Regions from separate parts of the Homo sapiens genome. Here region 1 is linked to region 2. A link means that fine-mapping ties the variant in region 2 to the expression of a gene that starts in the linked region. Tissue or cell type: whole blood. Region 2 holds a variant in brackets; the other region holds the start of a gene. All regions are shown on one strand. Distances are between the middles of the regions. Region 1 holds the start of NRN1 (neuritin 1). Region 2 has its middle 28 kb from the start of NRN1.

Evidence for each region. PIP is the estimated chance that this variant, and not a neighbour inherited with it, causes the effect.
Region 1: NRN1 starts here. The variant in region 2 is fine-mapped to the expression of NRN1 in whole blood (INTERVAL, PIP 0.98).

What each region holds. Positions count from the first base shown.
Region 1 is chr6:6,005,759-6,008,591 of GRCh38, forward strand. NRN1 (neuritin 1) reads right to left here and starts at 1,167. Exons shown (of 3, transcript NM_016588.3): 1 at 937-1,167. The coding sequence starts at 991.
Region 2 is chr6:5,977,515-5,980,424 of GRCh38, forward strand. No RefSeq gene overlaps it. Among named protein-coding and RNA genes, the nearest start is that of NRN1, 28 kb to the right of the region's middle. The variant A/G (reference allele first, on the strand shown) is at 1,490.

The DNA.
Region 1 (2,833 bases), 28 kb after region 2:
CGTTAATTAATGTTCTGACCCAGTGTCGGAGAAGGGGGTTTTCTAGTGCCCTCTTCTATATCTTTTCTTCATTCTGGATGGTAAAAATGTGAACTTTAAAAAGACCCCTGACAGCGTAACTACAACTCAACATTCCTTAACATAAAATGGGGACTAAATAATTCCTTCCATAACCAATCCCAAACAAACAAAAATAACAAACACCCGACATGACATATTCCAAACACTTCTTAACCCTTTCCTATATATAAAATGCAGACACCAATGTGTAAAGTAGCAGGCAAATGCATCTAGAAAAGTATATCTACGTAAATTTGGCTGAATTCATCCTCTTCAATGGTAAGCATGTTAAAATATGTGGTCTGAAGTTCCCTATCACTCTCGATTTGCCCACCAGCCGGGTCTGCGGTGCCCGTGCAAACGCTGCAGCTAGGATATAGGGGGGAGGAGGGGCGGGAGAATGACAAAGTTCTAAATGCAGCAGTCTGAGCCCTGGAATATCTTTGCTTTCAGCACATAAACTTTCCAGTCCTGGCTGCCTAGCCATTTTATTCCTGCATTCACATTTCGACTCTTCAAAATCATATCTTGCAGTATCGCAGGGGCCAGTACATTGCCCCAGAGCGCACCAAACCTGGTATAAACCCAGAAAGGGAAACAAAAATGGATGTGTGCTCAGGAAAAAGGGGGAAAAAAACCGTGTCCAGAAAATGTCCGGCCGCACACATTTCCTGGCGAACATTTGGAATCTATAGCTTTAGGAAAAACCGATCTGGGACGCGCTAGTCCCCAGGAACTGATGCCCCCACCCTCGGGGGATTGCCGGCTTCTCCGCACCCTGGGGCGGCCGCGGACCCGCTAGTCCCCCTCCGCGCCTCGGGCCGGGGCAGGCTGCCTCCCGCCTCCAGCCTCCAGCCGGGCTGAGCGGCCACTTACCTATTTGCACCGCGAGGATCAGTGAAATATATCTGCCGTTCAACTTAAGTCCCATCCTACGTTTAGTCAAACCATTTGCGACCGCAGACCTTTAAATAGTTAGTTTAGAGAACGCGGGGGAAAGCCAAAAAATAGGCATTGCCAACAAGTTCCGGGAGCGACAGAGACTTTATGCACTGGGAAGGCAGAGGGAGGAGAGAAAGAGAGGGAGCGAGGAAGAGACAGAAAGAGAGAGAGAGAGAGAAAGAGAGAGAGAGAGAGAGGCTGAGGGGGGGGGGAGAGCTGGGAATGGTTCACTCCATTAGAAGGGGGCGGAGGAAGTACAGCCTCACGCCCACGAGCAGGCCTGACGTGGGGGATGACACGGAATGATTTTTTTTTTAATATAGACACCTTGGTAGAGAATCGCCATTTATAGTCATCAGAAGCTGGAATTAATCAGATATCTCCAATTAATGTGCGATCTGAACGAAATTTTGCCTCCCGGGGGTGAGCACTTTCCTATTCTAGCGGTCACCCCTGCCTCTTCCTCGTTCCGGGGGCCCCCCAGCCCCGCCGCCTCCCTGCGCAGAACAGGGGCTCCCCCTCCCTTCCCCGCCAGGAGCTGGGGAGTCCTGGCGCGCCCACTCGATTGTTTCAACCTGCTCCCCCTCCTCCATCAGCACCACAGAGAATCCAGCCCGCTCTCTACGATGCAGGGGGGTTTAAAGGAGCGGGAGAGGGAAAAACAGCTAAGCTAGCTCGATTAATTCGAAAGCGCTCCTCGGCCGCCCGCCCCCTGCGCTTGCCTACCCTCTTTTTCTCCAACCCAGCAGCTGAGCTCTGGGCGCAGCCTGGAGCGCGTGAGCACGCAGCCCGGCCCCCCGCACGAGCACACACACACACACACACACACACACACACAAACGCGCGCGCGCACGCCCGCCAGCCGCGCCGAGCGCCCCCATGCCCGCCCGCACACAAGGCACGCGAGCGCGCGCACACGCCCAGGCCCCGGGGGTTTGGTTTGCACACGTGGGGCCCCAGAAATAAACACCGAATGTCCTCTGAATTTTACCCACCTGCGATGCCCCAGCGGGCCAAAGGCCGCTTCAAGGGACACAGCGACACCTGTTTTAGGGGGCGAGTAGGGCACCGGGGAAGGAGCCTCTGATAAGACAGTTTTCGGATACTAGTGATTTACCAACCAACTCTCAGCGCTTTAGGAAATTTCCAAGGCAAGCGCTGGTGTGCGGACTTCTTTCTAATCTTGATGCGCCTCTTGGGCTTATTTGTTGGGCTACACACACACGTACCCACACGCACACACGTACATCACGTACGCACACGCACACCCGGACCCACACACACCTGCACTGTCTTTTGATGCTCAGGCACAGACCCTGTGTAGGTGTAGCCTACCCTGCAACAAAATACTTCTGCAGCTGGCTTTGTGCTAGGTGCAAGCTGCTATCGACGACAGCTTGAGTCAAAACCGAAAAACTAACAGGGCTATTTCCTTTCTAAACGCCTTTAAGCTCTGGTTTTCTTCCTTTCTTCTGCACCAAACAGAAAAAAAAAAAGTCTAAATTGTAGCGTCTTTAATAAAATGCTAAAGAAGGCATTGGCCAGCTTTAATCCTTAAGCCTGTGGAGAGAAAAAAATGAAAACGACCCCCCAAATTTTGCCAAACTACACTAGAGGACGTCAAGCTGTCAAACTGTAGAAATGCACACGGATTAAGGAGAAGCGTTGAATTTGCTTCTACAGGCAGCTTGCCCTCTAGGGCCAATCTTGCCGTCCCCATACTCAGATATTTGGAGATGCATAGACAAAGGGGGAGAAAGGTGCAAAATAACGGGGGTAGGACAGGCTGTGGAGGGTAGGGGGCCGAGGGGAAGCTGCGGGGGTCCTACTG
Region 2 (2,910 bases):
AACAACAACAACAACAAACTCTACTCATATGTAGAAATCCAGGTTTCAAATATTTCATTTAATCTGAGCCTACTTGGTAGAGAACGCTGGATCAAAGTTGTATTCCTTTTCTATTGCTGCCATAACAAATTACTATCAACTTAGTGGCTTCAGCAACACCAGTGTATGCTCTCACAGTTCTGTGAGTCAGAAGACCAACATGGGTTTCTTTGACTAAAACCAATGTGTTAATAGGCTATGTTTCTTTCTGGAGGGTCTGGGGGAAAATCCATTTCCTGCTAATTTGGGTTGTTGACAGAATTCAGTTCCTTGCTGGTTGTCAGTGGAGGGCCATTCCCAGCTTCTGAAGGCCCCTGCATTCCTTGGCTTATGGCCTCTCCCTCCATCTTCAAAGCCTGCAATGGTGGGCTGAGTCCCTCTCATACTGTGAATCTCTCTTCCTTTTTTTCCCCTCTCATCTTTTCACTTGCAACTGGGAAAGGTTCTCCACTTTTAAGGACTTGTATGATTATAGAGTCCACCTGGATAATTCAGATACACTCTCTATCTCAAAATATTCAACCTTAATCACAACTGCAAAGTCCCTTTACCATGGAAGGTATCATATTCTGGGGGATAGAGAGTAAACATATTTGGCCGGGCGTGGTGGCTTACGCCTGTAATCCCAGCACCCTGGGAGGCTGAGGCGGGCAGATCACGAGGTCAGGAGTTGGTCAGCCTGACCAACATGGTGAAATGCTGTCTCTGCTAAAAATACAAAAATTAGCCAGGCGTGATGGTGTGTGCCTGTAATCCCAGCTACTCAAGAGGCTGAGGCAGGAGAATCGCTTGAACCTGGAAGGCAGAGGTTGCAGTGAGCCACGATTGCGACACTGCACTCCAGCCTGGGCAACAGAGCAAGACTCCGTGTCAAAAAAAAAAAAAAAAAAGGAGACACATTTGTGGGTCCATTATTCTGCCTACCTCAAAGATATTCATTAATCGAGGTGGGGGGTGGTGGTGCTAGAGATTTTCTTTAGAACTTTGAGTGAGCTCCTCTGTGAATCAGAAAGATATTCTTGTAAAGTCTCTAGCCTTATGCTTGTGATATTTAAGAGCTTCAGTGATTGCCATTTCTTGGAGAATTCCTTTATATTTTAGCACACTCTCAAAGAACATTATTACCCTTCCCCACTGAGTTTTGCTCAGAGTCTCAATGTCATTATTTTATTCCTTGCGCTCCCTTTTTTTCTTAGAGTCATCAACTATAATGTAAGTTGCTTTTCCTTGTTGTATATCCTTTCTTCTGGATCTTTTGGAGAGGGTTCAGATTATATATTTTTCCTGTTTTTTCAGAGTGGGGGAAAAAGTCTCCAGGAGAGGAGAAGGAGTTTTCTCACTTGCCTGCTATTTCATTTCCCTAGGCTTTCAAATTTATACACACAGTCCATGTGTTCTGATTTTTCCACACAGACATTTTCTAACAGAGATGTTTGTGCAATTTCTTTGC[A/G]TCTTCACTTCATGTTACGAATATAGCCAAATTCAAAAAATATACCCAGCCAGAATAAATGTTTGATCTTGTATCACTGGATTCTTGCATATAACTGGCCATTAAGCAACTAAAACAACTGGACTTCAGAACAACTGAATTAACAAATACATTGATAATCTGATCAATTTTTTGGTTGGATAAGATCCAAACATTTTAAGATCTGGCATTAAAGAAAGAAAAAGAATATATCACGCATTTTTCAATTTAGTTAATTAACAGCTCCTAAATTTAGTGTCCTATTTCTGGTTATGTGTTAAATTTACCCATGGTGTTGTCCTTTACATTTGAGAAAAATTTAATGAAGTCTTTCTATAGGGAAGTGTTAAAAGTATAATGCCAAGTGAAAAAGAGATTATAAAATAACACATACAATGCAATTTATTAATGTATGTTTCACAATATAATTTTTCTATAGTACACAAAATAAAAATATAAAACAGATATACATATATATACACATGAATGATATTAGATCTAGTTGACAAACAGTGCAAGCTTTCACCTTCCCTCCAATCCTGAATCTATTAAAATAAAAAGCTATATTTTAGAAAGAATACATTTACAGCATTCTAGGAAAACATGAAATGAAACCACCATTAAAAGACCAGGAAATTCGAGACATTCCTGGAAAGAAGATAGAAATGAATGAGAGGAGACTGATAACAGGCGTGAACAGAAAACTACATCCCGACACACCCGTGAGTGAAAGGCCAATTGGGGAAATTCCAAACTTAGAGAGAACAAATGGAACAAGAAGAGAAGTAGCCATGGAGCAATGCTTCTAGTGAGTCATAAACAGCTGCATCAGGTCAGAGAGGACAGCCCAGAAACCATCTCTCTCCTGTCTCCTGGTTTATACACACAACACACGTGTTTGATCCCAGGTTAAAAGTGGAGAACTACACTCTGAAGCAAGCAAACTTCCTTCCCTTAAGGCGTCCTGGTGTAGGGGCCTAGAATAGAAAAGCAGAGCTTAAGATAACTCCAGACTGCTACAACAATCAGGGAGAGAAAAATGAAGACACAGCTCTCTCCAAGAAGGAAATACATGAAAGGGCTAAGGGGGGAGGATCATTTGAGGCAGGAAGTTCAAGACCAGCCTCGATGATATAGCAAAACCCTATCTCAAAAATGAAACAAAACAAAACAACAACAGGGTTTCACCACCAACCCATTGAACTATTGCCATGGTTTGCCACATAGTTGACTAATATCCATGTTGACATGAGAAGCGCGATGCCAATTTTTTGTCTCTTTTCATTGTAGGTAACTGGCTTTCTTCTCTCTGGAGATGTCATTCAGCAGGCTTTTTCAATCTGACAACTGGTGCTTTTCTTCAGCTTGGGAAATTTTATTTTATTTCTTCAATTACTTCCCCT